Linked DNA regions of Homo sapiens. The protein of the gene in region 1 purifies or fractionates together with the protein of each later gene. This does not show direct contact. Each region holds a gene or a part of one and is shown in the gene's direction. Other genes may lie near its edges.

Region 1 (7,488 bases):
AATACGAGCTCCTTTGAAAGAAATAGTTGATTTGTGTTTCAAAAGGAAGATAGTATTCTGTATCTGGTAGTATCTCTATGGCTCTAGAGATAACTACAGTTTGATACTAGAATAATCTACCAACCATTTTTTTCTTTTTTCTTTTCTTTCTTTTTTTTTTTTTTGAGATGAGGTCTTGCTCTGTTACTCAGGCTGGAGTGCAGTGGTGTGATCTCAGCTCACTGCAACCTCCACCTCACAGGTTCAAGCAATTCTCCCACCTTCCCACCTCAGCCTCTGAAGTAGCTGGGACTACAGGCATGCACTATGGCACCAGACTAATTTTTGTGTGTGTATATATATATTTTTTTTAATTTTTTATTTTTTTAATAGAGATGGGGTTTCACAATGTTGGTCAGGCTGGTCTCAAGCTCCTGACCTCAAGTGATCCACCCACCTCAGCCTCCCAAAGCTCTAGGACTACAGGCATGAGCCACCATGCCTGGCCTACCAACCATTCTTTTTTTTCTTCTTTTTTTTTTTTTTTGAGACAGAATCTGACTCTGTTGTCCAGGCTGGAGTGCAGTGGCATGATCTTGGCTCACTGCAACCTCCACCTCCTGAGTTCAAGCGATTCTCCTGCCTCAGCCTCCAGAATAGCTGGGATTACAGGCGCCTGCCACCACGCCCAGCTAATTTTGTATTTATAGTAGAGACAGGGTTTCACTGTGTTGGCCAGGCTGGTCTCGAACTCATAACCTTGTGATCCGCCTGCCTCGGCCTCTCAAAGTGCTGAGATTACAAACTGAGCCACCGCGCCCGACCCCAACCATTCTTAAAAAAGAAATGCTTAGGTTCTTGCTACCCAAAATGCGGTATGGGACCAGCAGCATCAGCATCATCCGGGAGTTTGCTACAAATGCAGCTTCTCAGCACTGGATTAAGATATCTGGGGAATGCCCAAGAAATCAACAATATATCACTTTTGAAATTACACAATCAGGGCCTGACAGTCTTTTTTTTTTTTTAAAGCTGTTCTTTTTAAATTTTGTGTTTTCAAACTGTCCTAAGGCTTAAGACTCAAAAAAAATTACAGGGATTAATCATAGGGGAAGCAAAACCCATTATATTTAAAAGTTGTGTGTGCATAATATTTTATTTCATGGGAGCATCTCATGGGACTGAAATCTTAATTTTCTAGTCTCAAAGAGAACGACAGTTGTATGATGCTACTTTAGCTCCTTTAGGGAAGGGCAGGTGATACAATACTGAGCACAACCTACATGTCTCACAAAAAGTTCACCAAAAAAGTTCAGGTTTTCCCCACACTTCTTTGGATTAATGATCAGGTCCTCAAAGAAAAACTACCATTTCCAAACTTTATGGAATGTGCACATTCTCATAGCCTATCTGAGACATCACCCATTCTGGGGAGAGGGTATTTTGCTGCATGTGAAAGACACACTATTCTTAACATTAATACAGTAGTGAACATCAGAGGCAATAGTCATATTTGGGTTTCTTTCATTCCTAAAAGCAAGAATGTATCCACAAAGAATGAAATGTAAGAATTAAGTAAAATGAAAGAAAATTGCACAAAATTATTTCCTCCCTGAATTGGGGGTGGGAGAGTGGTGCTTTTTAGGAAGTTTCAGTCAACATTATCCCAACCTCCCTGGAAAACATAAACCTGATTTGGTGCTCAACAATAACGCCTAGATTTGTTTAATGCTTGTTGTGAAAATAATTTCACTCTAGATACATTTCTTAATGTAATCACCACCTGGGGAGAGAAAGAAGATACAAACGAATTGCCATACATTTTGTGACTCTATGTAACATAAATAAGACAAAATTTATCCACCAGTTTTATGGTGCATTTTCCTTTATACATGGCTCCTTCTTAAAACTACTGCAGCAAGATACCAAAAACAATTAATGAGAAACATAAAACACGTGCAGATAAGGTAGGGAAATGTATGTGTATTCAGAGTCACTAAGAGACACCTCAGTTATCTTCCTTATAATTTAGACATCTTGGCACAGTTTTATTCCCTACTGTTTGTAGTAATTTTTCTGCTACTCCCAAAATAAGCAAGTTTTATCATCTGCAAATACATGACACTTGGATAGGGTGGTTATAACGCTGCCTCCTTGTTTCTCTCGATTAAAAAAAGCCTGTTTCACAGGAAAATAAATCACGATACCTAACCCAAATGTGAAAGAACAGACTGAGCAGAACTAACAAAACTCATTTGCTCTTCTAGTTTTTAAAAATGTGAGTTTTGGACATCTGATTCCTGATCTCACCCTCAAGAAGTGGATCTGGTTATAAAGTGATGATGTTTTACAGTACATGTGACCATAGTTTAGCTGCTATAATATTCTTAATATAGTTACATAGCCAGGCTATGCAAGGTTTCTCACAAAACCAGAAAAGCTATTCGATCCTTATCATTCCCTTCCTGTACTGTTCTCAATAACTGGCTTCTCAAATCGTTCAGGAAACCACTGAGAATCATTAACGGGTTATTGGAATGCCCAGAGTGACTGCCCAAGGACAGGAAAATGCACTGGCTCTTTTTAGAAGAACCTGGAAAAGTGCATGCAGACCATTGCGGCTGAGTTGGCAATGGATGATTTCCTTCTCACAGTGTAATGTACAATAGCTGTAATTTAATTGTTAATAGAACACAACATGCAGTCTGTCTTCAGGCCTCTGTGTTTCTTGTGGTATTTTCTTCCCAGGTTGGAGTGTTTTTGTATAATCACATCTTATTCTCTTTTAACAGTTATCAACTCTTGGCTAGATCCCCTTATACAATACAGAGTATAGTTTATTCTCAGTAGTGTAGCCATCCTCATTATTATCAAACAGAACTAATTGCTGAGATGCTCATAGTAATATGCAAAACAGCTTGTCCTTTGTTATTTAGAAATTGTTTATATTAAGTTTATATTCTCTTTTAATTTGTTAAAGATATAATTCTTTGACTGAGATAGGACATTTCTTCTCATTGGTTTATTTATTTTAGAGATGAGATCTCACTATGTTGCCCAGGATGATTTTGAACTCCTGGACTCAACCAGTCCTCCTGTCTCAGCCTCCCCAAATGCTAGGATTACAGGTGTGAGCTACTACACTCAGCCATTTCTTCTAGTTTTAGATCTATATAATAAAACGATGCTTTTCTGTGATCCCTTAACATTCTCTACACTCAGGTGCATGTTCAAAGCATATTTGTTTTACTGTTGCCTAGTTTTCCATGTCATTCATTGAATTATCCAATGCATATTAATTATCAGTCACTTTTCCCATTACTAAGGGTACTTGAGTGAACAGAGCAGACAAAAACCCCACCCTTAAAAAGCTTATATTATTTTCAAGTTGTTGCAACTTTGGGTGTTTTTAAAAAATAAAAATTCCCAGCTGATAAAACCAACTTATTTGACAGCTACCTGCCTCACCAGTAGAACCAAGTTATAGCCAGAATTCAGAAATAACATTTTTGAGCATTTATTGTGTCTGACAATGTGCCAATCACTTTACATTTATTTTAGCTCATTTAATGCTTACAACAACTAGAAGGAGGTACTATTAGGATCCCTATTTTACAGATGAAAAAAGTGAAGGTCAGAGAGATTAGTTAAGCAGAGGGTACAAGATTAGGTTCCAGTTGACTCTTAACAACCATTTCATATTCCAGGTGATGCTTTACAGACATCTGATGAATGGATGGATGAATGAATGCATGCACTTTGGGAACTCCCATTCAGCTTGGCATAAATACTAACTCCTTAGAATACCCTAGAAAAATCTAGACCTTTTGTTGGAAGAAAAGAGTGGGAAGGGTGGTAGGGAATTATTTTTTCGAGTGAATTGAGGCAGATGATCTTACAGATGACTGGGTTCTAGTCAGCATGGTTGCCTTATCTGGTGAGAGATGAGAATTGGGCAGACACCAGTTCTGTCTGCCCTGGGCCCTCAAACTGAGTAGCCTCTGAGATTCAAGTTCATCAGCACAGTGTTGGAGGACAGTTCCTGCAGAGCCCCATGAATCAGAGGAGACTCGGAGGCAGGAGGAACTGGCTATCCTAAAGGTGATTTTAAACCGGGGTAGCTAGAGCCCAAAGAAGGGCGAAACCAGGACTAACTGCCCCATAGCATGAGGGGCAGCGCCTGTAAAATTACATAGGATTTGTAAAGGTGGAAGGCACTGTTGCGCCGGGTAAAGCTTCGCAAGGTCGTGGTAGGGGAAATGATTCACTCCCCTTCACTATTCCCTCGCAGCATGGTCCTCACAACCCCCTTCTCTTTCCCCATTTCCATTTCCGGACTCTTCTCCTGCCCGCAGGGCAGACGCACGCGCAGAGAGATTGCCAGCCCTGGCTGCCAGAGACCCGGAAGCATCGATCGGCTCTGTGCTCGGCTTCTAGACTTGTCGGCGCTCGATTGAGGAGCGTGGCTACGTTGCTTCCGGTGCCTGGCTCCGTTTCCTGCTTTTGGTTCTTACAGTAGTCGGCGTAGGCCTTAGGTGGGTTCGTGCGCCTTCTACCTCGCTGTTTCGGTTTTCCTGGCTCCTCGGCCCTTTTCTCCCCTGTTGCAGCTGGGAGCGGACGAAGCGCGAAGCTGGGGTGGGTACGCGTTTGGCCCGGGTTTGGATCTCGGAGGGGCAGGCTTGGGGGTGAGGAGACTGACTCTGGGGCCGGGCATCGCGTGGCAGCTCCCTTGGACTTCGTTAGGGGGCCTTGGGCGAAGGTGCTTGTGTCTGGAGAGGCGGGAGGCTTGCGCGTACGAAGTAAAGGATAGTTAATGTCAGTCTGCTCGTGCGAGGCGTGGACAGTTCACTGCGCTTTCAGGTGTCTTCCAGCGGCTCCCTTTTGGTGGTGGCGGGTAATTCAGGGTGTCCCTGTAACAACGCAGCCCACGATCAAACCTCGCATGAAACCCTGCAAGAGCCTCCCCTTTGTCCCCCTACCTTCACTTTGACCTCTGCCTCAGTCACTTCCCTTTCGTCGTCTCCTTTGCGACCCCTGCCCCTTCTCCAGATTTCGATTTAGGGGGTCGCAAGGCTTTGAGAAGCGTTACGTTTTACCTGTTACCTGCACAAGTGCAGCCCCTGCTTGTAGGCTCTTCCCTTGTCAATCATCCAATGCAGTTCACATACAGTGGATGCTCTGTAAATACTGTGAGATAAAGGAATATGTGGGGCACACAAGGAAATCATCCAAGTTCACAATTTGCAAGTAAAAACCATGTAAAAAATGCAATAGTGTGGTATATGAGGAAGACAAGTGTAGAGGAGAAAGCAAGGGCTGAATTTCCAGGCCTGATGCTTATTAGCTGTGTGACCTTAGGCAAGTTCCTTACCTGGTAATAGCTGTTAATAATAGCTACTCTTAAGTGTTTACCGCTGATGCAGAACTGTGCTAGAATTCATTTAGTCTTCTGAGTTCTATTGGGTAGGTTCTGTTACCATTCTTATTTTACTGATGAGGACCTGAGAGGTTAAGGAACTTCCCTCAGGCAAACAGCTAGTAAGAAGCATAAATAGGATTTGAATTCACATCTGGCTGATACTGGAATCTGAGTTTAATCGTCATGCCACACTGCTGTCATTGAGCTCCTTTCTTTCAAGTCGGTTAGAGATAACCTTGGAGTCCAGACAGCTTGGTGATGCTGTATACAAATTAATAGGTATGGAAGGACTTTGTAAGTGCACCCATTAAGTAGTTGGCAAACTTCATTAATGTCTAACCTTATGATTTTTACTGGATGTACATTTGCTACTTTGGTCATTTTTCTTCAAATCTACATTTTAAAATTATTTCATTGAGGAGGTGGAAAGAAAATGTCACGTGTCATAAGTGAAACGTAAGTGTAAAAATAAATGTGTTGAATTAAATGGTGTTACTAAAATCTGGCTAGGTATTGGTGCTCCAAGTTTTGAATGTGAGAAACTGTTCTTCTTCTGTATGAAAAGGAGGGCTAGTAGGTGCTGGAGATACAATAAAGGCTACAGCCAAACTGACATTTTCTGACAACTGGGATTGAAAGAGAAATGAAAAGTTAATAATTCTTGTGTTGTGTCCTTATGCCACAGTCCAGTATAATTTACTCCTTCCTTTTTATAACAGATTTTTTACTGTCTCCTGAAGAATTTAACACAAACATGGATATCAGACCAAATCATACAATTTATATCAACAATATGAATGACAAAATTAAAAAGGAAGGTAAGTGCTTTTTAGAATACTTGTTCACTACTAAAATGTGTTTATTTACTACTGTCTTAAAAATTGTACTGCCTCAAAACCTCTTACCTCATCATCTTAGTGCCTGAAATAATGGTTTATCCCATTTCCTATAGGGATTTGAAGGCTTTTAAAAAACAAAAATAGGTAGGAACTGACAGTGTGTACAGTCTGTTTCTACTCATAGATATAATGGTTTCATATAACTTTTAAAATTACATATAGCCAATGGGAATAGTATATGTTTTTATAAATATTAAAATATATAACTGTATAAATAAGTGAATGGTGGGGGGGGCAACTCAATGCAGTATCATTTTATGAAGACTTTTGTCATTACTTTATTACCAATAACTTGTTTCTTTTCTAATTTGGACAGAATTGAAGAGATCCCTATATGCCCTGTTTTCTCAGTTTGGTCATGTGGTGGACATTGTGGCTTTAAAGACCATGAAGATGAGGGGGCAGGCCTTTGTCATATTTAAGGAACTGGGCTCATCCACAAATGCCTTGAGACAGCTACAAGGATTTCCATTTTATGGTAAACCAATGGTAAGCCAATTCCATTATTTCACTTTAATCAAGAAATTAATGATATTGATGGGACAGTAGATTTGTAAATATGCTTGAAACTGTGGCTATTGCTTTCTGCTTTTAATTATGTGTGTTTGGGTTTATGTATTTTTATAGAAAAACAGTAGTGGTAGAGTTTAATTTATGACAGTTCAGATGGGCAAAAACAAAATACATTGAGATGTAGAATATTTTAAAAAATAATGGCAGTCTAGGCAATAGTCTTATCTCAAAAAGTTAGAAATTAATAATATCCTGGAAGACTTGAAAAGAAACCTGTTTGTAAACTTGTAAAACATTACGAAACAAAAGTCATGAGTCAAAGAGGAAATTCAGTCTGAAGTTTTAGAATATGTCGTAGTGAAATACTATGTGTCAGAAGCTGCACAGTCTAGATGAAACAGTGATCTAAGGAAAAATGATAGGTTTAAACTCATAGGTTTTAGGAATAACAATGGAAATGAAATGGTTATGAATGGAGAGTTTTAAACTCAGGAATGACATAATGAGATTCACATCTAGCTGCTGGATGAAGGTCGCATTGTGGGAGGGACAGAAAGGAAGTGGGAAACTCAATTAGGAGGCCCTTGATGTAAGTCAGAGATGGTAGAGGATCAGATAAGGGTGACCACAGAGTGTGAAGCAAGGGGTTTCTATGTATGAGTGAATACACCATATCTT
Region 2 (6,820 bases), on another chromosome or scaffold:
GAAAAATCAATCAATAAATAGGAAGCACAGCATAAAAGTTTAGAAAAGTCACAACCTGGCAATGTGGTAGAGAAGGGAAGAGCATTTTTTAGGAGAGAAATAGAAGCAGGCTGTATTGCCTTGCTGGAGAGGTTGCGTGACTAAAAGGAAGCCAAGTGCTAACATCCAAGACAATGGGAAAAAGGCCTTGAAGGCATTTCAGGAGTCTTCAAAACAGCCTCCCCCATCACAGGCTCTGAGGCATATAAGGAAAGAGTGGTTTACTGGGCCAGATCCAGGGCCCTGTCTCCTGCTCAGCCTGGGGACACTGCTCCCCTGCATCCCTGCTGTTCGATCACCAGCCATGACACACAGGGTCCCAAGTACAGCTTGGGCCACCACTCCAGAGGGTGCAAGCCATAAACTTTGGCAGCTTTCATGTGGGATTAAGCCTGCAGGTGCACAGAATGCAAGAGTGAAGGAAGCTTAGCAGCTCCCACCTGGATTTCAGAGGATGTGTAGGAAAGCCTGGGTGTCCAGGCAGAAGTCGGCTGCATGGTTGGAGTCCCTACAGAGAGCCTCTACTAGGACAGTGCCAAGGGGGAAAGGTGGGGTTGGAGGCCTAACATAGAGTCCCCACCAGGGCGCTGCCTAGTGGAGCTGTGAGAAGGGGACCCCTCCTCTCTAGATCCCAGAGTGACAGGTCTGCCAGCAGATTGCACCCTGAGCCTACAACAGCTGCAGGCACTAAACTCCAACCTGTGTGAGGAGACATTGGGGCTGGACTTTGCTGCCCAAGACTTTGGGAGCCCACTCCTTGCACCAGTGTGCCTTGGATGCAGAACATGGAATCAGGGATTATTTTGGAGCTTTAAAGTTTTTTTTTGTTTTTGTTTTTGTTTTGAGACAGAGTCTTTCTCTGTTGCTCAGGCTGGAGTGTAGTGGTGCAATCTTGGCTCACGACAACCTTCGCCTCCCGAGTTCAAGCAATTCTTCTGTCTCAGCCTCCTGAGTAGCTGGGATTACAGGCACCTGCCACCACACCTGGCTAATTTTTGTATTTTTAGTAGAGATGAGGTTTCACCATCTTGGCCAGGCTGGTCTTGAACTCCTGACCTCGTGATCCATCCACCTCGGCCTCCCAAAGTGCTGAGATGACAGGTGTGAGCCACTGTGCCAGGCTAGAGCTTTAAAGTTTAATGTCTTCTCTGCTGTGTTTCAGACTTCTGTTAAGCCTATTGTCCCTTTCCTTTGGCAGATTTCTCCCTTTTATTTTATTATTATTATTATTTTATTTTTATTGTTGTTGTTTTGAGACAAAGTCTCGCTCTGTTGCCACGCTGGAGTATAGTGGCACGATCCTGGCTCACCGCAACCTCTGCTTCCTGGGTTCAAGCAATTCTCCTGCCTCAGCCTCCCAAGTAGCTGGGACAACAGGCACGTGCCACCATACCCAGCTAATTTTTGTATTTTTAGTAGAGACAGGGTTTCACCATGTTGGCCAGGATGGTCTCGATCTCTTGACCTCATGATCTGCCTGCCTCAGCCTCCCAAAGTGCCAGGATTACAGGTGTGAGCCACCGTGCCCAGCCATCATTATTATTTTTTGAGATAGAGTCTTGCTCTGTCCAGGCTGGAGTGCAGTTGCACAGTCTCAGCTCACTGCAACCTCCACCTCCCAGATTCAAGCGATTCTCCTGCCTTAGCCTTCAAAGTAGCTGGGATTACAGGTGCATGCCACCATGTCCAGCTAATTTTTGTATTTTTAGTAGAGAAGGGGTTTCGCCATGTTGCCCAGGCTGGTCTTGAACTCCTGATCTCAGGGATCCTCCTACCTTGGCCTCCCAAAGTGCTGGGATTACAGGTGTGAGCCACCACACCCGGCCTATTTTATTTGTTTTTTTGAGACAGATTCTCACTCTGTTGCCCAGGCTGGAGTGCAGTCGTGCAATCTCTGCCTCCCGGGTTCAAGCAATTCTCCTGCCTCAGCTTCCCAGGTAGCTGGAATTACAGGTGCGTGCCACCACTCCCAGCTAATTTTTGTATTTTTAGTAGAGATGGGATTTCACCATGTTGGCCAGGCTGGTCTCGAACTCCTGACCTCAGGTGATCCGCCCACCTCGGCCTCCCAAAGTGCTGGGATTACAGGTGTGAGCCACCACACCCAGCCCTTTTCTTTCTTTTTTTTTTTTTTTTTTTGAGACGGAGTCTCGCTCTGTCGCCCAGGCTGGAGTCTAGTGGCACAATCTTGGCTCACTGCAGCCTCAACTTTCTCGGCTCAAACGATCCTCCCACTTCTTTTTTTTATTTGAGACGGAGTTTTGCTCTTGTCTCCCAGGCTGGAGTGCAATGGTGCCATCTTGGCTCACCACAACCTCTGCCTCCCAGGTTCAAGTGATTCTCCTGCCTCAGCCTCTCAAGTAGCTGGGATTATAGGCATGTGCCACCATGCCCAGCTAATTTTGTATTTTTAGTAGAGACGGGGTTTCTCCATGTTGATCAGTCTGGTCTCGAACTATTGACCTCAGGTGATCTGCCCGCCTTGGCCTCCCAAAGTGCTGGGATTACAGGCGTGAGCACTGCACTCGGCCTTTTTCTTGAAACATAAAATTAGTCATTTTAATTTGCAATAATTTCTGTAGTTATTAAACAGGCTATTGAATCCATCCACAAAACTTAAGATACAATACTTAAGAACAGGGCTCTAAATAACAAGTGCCAGCTCTCTGATCTCATGGCCAACAACCTGAGATTCCTGCCATCTGGTCTCAGTTCAGGACCTTTGCACTTACTGTTAAACACCGCCCCCCCGGCCCCACCCCAGATCTCGCTTCTATCTGTCCTTTATTCAAATGTTACCTCTTCAGAGGGGCCTTCCATTATCACCCTTTCTAAAACAGCCTCGCTCTCACTTCCCATCCCTTTATTCTGCTCCATCGTTCTTCATTATGCTGGCCACTATCTCAAATTATCTTTTATTATTTATTTATTTATTTACTTTTGAGACGGAGTCGCTCTGTCGCCCAGGCTGGAGTGCAATGGCACGACCTCGGCTCACTGCAACCTCCGCCTCCCGAGTTCAAGCGATTCTCCCGCCTCAGCCTCCAGAGTAACCGGGCTTACAGGCGCGCACGGCCACGCCCGGCTAATTTTTGTATTTTTAGTAGAGACGGGCTTTCACCATGTTGGTCAGGTTGGTCTCACACTCCTGACCTCAGGTGATCTGCCCGCCTCAGCCTCCCAAAAGTTCTGGGATTACAGGCGTGATCCACCGCGCCTGGCCTCAAATTATCTTTATTCAGTTAAATGCTTTTATTGTCTCTCCCAGTACAATGTAAGCCCTAGCAGCAGAAGACTTTGCTTTAATCACGTGCTGTACCCCCAAAGCCCAGACAGTGCCTAGCACACACGAGATGCTCGATGAATAGTTATTGATTGAATAGATTAGACATCAACGCAATCAGGCTGTTCACCTAGGGACTCTTTGCTAGGCGGCGGAGAGGTACGTTACAGTTCTCTACGCAAAACGCATGCGCGAAAGATCCGGGAAGTGTGATCGGAAAGGGGCGGAGCATCAGGGAGAGTCTCGCGGACATAGGCGGTTCGGCGCGGAAAGCGGGAGGTGGAGGGGCGGCTTGGGGCAAGCGCGCGCGCGCAGTGCAGAAGCCAGCCCCCCGCGGCTGAGGTACTCAAGGTGCCCAAAGGCGGGGTAGTGACCTCGCGCGTGCGCTGTGCCCGCGGCAGCGCCGGGTCCTAGTGTGTGGGTTGTTGTTGGCACCGCACGGCGCGTGCGCAGTGAGGACGGCGGAGGGATTTGCGGCCGGGACCCACCCCCTGCTCCAGTCGCTATCGGAGGCCGCGCGGGTGGCTGAGCAGCGGCCTGGTGCGCTCGCTTAGCGGGCGACGGAATCAGACGGACGTGGACGCCCCCGGAGTGGAAGCCGAAGCAGGAGTTGTTGTTGCTGAGGGGCTGCCGCAGCCGCCGCGAGCCTCCGGACAGACGCCAGAGCGAGGAGGGCGCTACGCGGTGAGTGAGTGTGACTGAGTGGCCCGACGGGGTGCGGGGCCGCTACCCAGAAGCCCCAGCGGTGGGCCCGGTCCTCTTCCCCGCGGCCAGGCCCCTTTCCCGCGTCCCCGCCACAGGTCCCTTCTGCATCCCTTTCCCGGACCCCGAAATCTCTGGGCACCCACGCCCGCTTCCCACAGCGCCCTCGTGGTTCCCTACCCACAGGCCCTTGCGGTGTGTGGCCTTTTTTCTTTTTCGTTTGTCTATGTTGTCCTGGACCCTTACCCATAATTCCTTTCGCTTTTTGCGGGGTCCAGGTCTGTTACCCACAAGCACTTGGTTTTGGGGCTTCGCTCCTTATGTTTCTCTTTCTTTGCTTGGAAACTTCCGATCCCCAGGACCCTGCAAACTGCATCTCGTAATTTGCCCTCCACGGCACGGGACGAGCAGCCACAGCTGCTCTGGGCCTCCCTCCTCGGGTCCTTGATTTCCCCAGAAATTCCCAGGGAACCTCTCCGCCCCACAGCTCGTGTCAGAGGACTCTGAGACTTCACTCTTCAGGAACCCTTTTCCAGCCGTTATTTTTGTTTTCTTTACCGGCCTTTCACCTCCACCCCCACCAAGACGTACCCTTTTCTCCGCAACACAGGACTGTTCTCTGCCCTTACAGAGCCTGTTTTAATTCCGAGACTTTTCTCCTGTCTTTCTTATTTTGAGAGTCAAGGAGTAACAGGGGCTTTCTCTGTGCAGACCCGATCTAACCTAAGGCTGTCCTGCTTCTGCTCTCAGACTTGGCAAGATGACCCAGTTCCTGCCGCCCAACCTTCTGGCCCTCTTTGCCCCCCGTGACCCTATTCCATACCTGCCACCCCTGGAGAAACTGCCACATGAAAAACACCACAATCAACCTTATTGTGGCATTGCGCCGTACATTCGAGAGTTTGAGGTGAGTTCACTGAGCAGGCCAGGAATGGTTTGGGTTCTGGGGAGCAACGGGTTGGATTTGCGAGTCCAGCTTCTGGCCATTTTGCCAGCTGCGTGATTTAAGCGAGGGGCTTAACCTTTGTGATCCTCAGTTTCTCTGTTTTAAATGGGGTTGGAGCCGGGTGTCGGGTGTGGTCGAGTGCGTCTGTAGTCTCAGCTACTCAGGAGGCTGAGGTGGGAGGATTGCTTGAGCCCAGGAGTCGGAGGCTGGAGTGCTTTGTGATTGTGCCACTATACTCCGGCCTGGGTGACAGAGCAGGACTTCGTCTCTCAAAAAAAAAATTTTTTTTTTAAGTGGGGTTGTGGCCCGGTACGGTGGCTCACGCCTGTAATCCCAGTACTTTGGGAGACCGAGGCAGGCGGATCACTTGAGGTGAGGAGTTGAAGACCAGCCTGGCCAACATGGTGAAACCACGTCTCTGCTAAAAATAACAAAAATTAGCCGGACATGGTGCCTGTAATTCCAGCTACTTGGGAGGCTGAGGCACGGGAATCACTTGAACCCAGGAGGCGGAGGTTGCAATGAGCCGAGATCGCGCCACTGCACTCCATCCTGAGCAACAGAACAAGACTGTCTCAAAAAAAAAAAAAAAAAAAAAGTGGGGTTGATAGTACACCTTTTGTAGAATTTTTGTGAAAATTCAGTGAGTAGTGGTTGAGGATTCATGCCTAACCCACACCATTTATCAGCTCTGACTTTGGGCAAATGTTGTATCCTCTTAATGCATTGGTTTCTTTATCTTTAGCAAGGGGATAGTGGTAGCACCCTTATAATGTTGGTGGAGAATTAAATGGCAAACTGTATGTCAGGGGGCTTGGCACCAAGCAGTCAGCACATGTCAGCCTTTGTTACTCTGTTTACTACTTTTATTGTTAATAAGATGATGTTCATAAAGGCTTAGCACCCAGTATTGAGTATTGGAGGGCTTAAAACTGCAGATGGGGATCTTAGCTCTGCACCTTTGGGATAAATAGGAATGAATGACTTAGGCTCCTGGACCTCTGTGTTTTTATTTGTGAAATGGGATGACAAGGGTCATCTCTTAGGTGCATCAGAGCACACCTGAGAAAAGCTGGCACACAGTCGGAAGTTACAAGAAGAACGTTCTAGCATTGGGTAGGTAAGGGCAGCTGGAGGCGAGGGAGTTGCAGAGCAGAATTTCGTAGATAACAGAAAGGTATGTCTTCAGTGGGATTTGCCACCCTTGGTGAACCCGCACTTGAGAGATATTACTGGCCAATTAACTTAATGGGCACAGGCGGGTGGTAGGTGCCCTTTGATGATGCAGGTCATGTGCCAGTTACCATTTATTTATTTATGAGACAGTTTTGCTCTGTTGCCCAGGCTGGAGTGCAGTGGCGTGATTTTAGCCAACTGCAGCCTCCGGTTCAAGCAGTTCTCCTGCCTCAGCCTCTCAAGTAGCTGGGATTACAGGCATGCACCACCACGCCTGGCTAATTTTGTATTTTTAGTAGAGATGGGGTTTCACCATGTAGGCCAGGCTGGTTTCGAACCCCTAACCTCAGGTGATCCACCCCCCTTGGCCTCCCAGAGTGCTGGGATTACAGGTGTGAGCCACCATGCCTGGGAGCCAGGTACTTTTTTTTTTTTTTTTTTTTTGACTTGGAGTCTCGCTCTGTTGCCTAGGCTGGAGTGCAGTGGCGTGATCTCGGCTCACTGCAAGCTCCGCCTCCCGGGTTCATGCCATTCTCCTGCCTCAGCCTCCCGAGTAGCTGGGACTACAGGTGCCCGCCACCACGCCTGGCTAATTTTTTGTATTTTTAGAGATGGGGTTTCACCGTGTTAGCCAGGATGGTCTTGATCTCCTGACCTTGTGATCTGCCCACTTT

The links. Proteins that work in one complex are often made in the same cells at the same time.
Region 2: the proteins of SNRPB2 (region 1) and SNRNP70 purify together in Homo sapiens (affinity purification with mass spectrometry; 6 studies listed by BioGRID and IntAct, with this or other methods). This does not show direct contact.

The regions. Positions count from the first base shown.
Region 1 is NC_000020.11:16,725,551-16,733,038, forward strand, and holds the start of SNRPB2 (U2 small nuclear ribonucleoprotein B''), read left to right. Parts: upstream 1-4,475; 5' UTR 4,476-4,614; intron 4,615-6,117; 5' UTR 6,118-6,152; coding exon 6,153-6,216; intron 6,217-6,613; coding exon 6,614-6,786; intron 6,787-7,488. UniProt on the Homo sapiens protein: Involved in pre-mRNA splicing as component of the spliceosome. Associated with sn-RNP U2, where it contributes to the binding of stem loop IV of U2 snRNA.
Region 2 is NC_000019.10:49,081,631-49,088,450, forward strand, and holds the start of SNRNP70 (U1 small nuclear ribonucleoprotein 70 kDa), read left to right. Parts: upstream 1-3,820; 5' UTR 3,821-4,006; intron 4,007-4,774; 5' UTR 4,775-4,784; coding exon 4,785-4,931; intron 4,932-6,820. UniProt on the Homo sapiens protein: Component of the spliceosomal U1 snRNP, which is essential for recognition of the pre-mRNA 5' splice-site and the subsequent assembly of the spliceosome. SNRNP70 binds to the loop I region of U1-snRNA.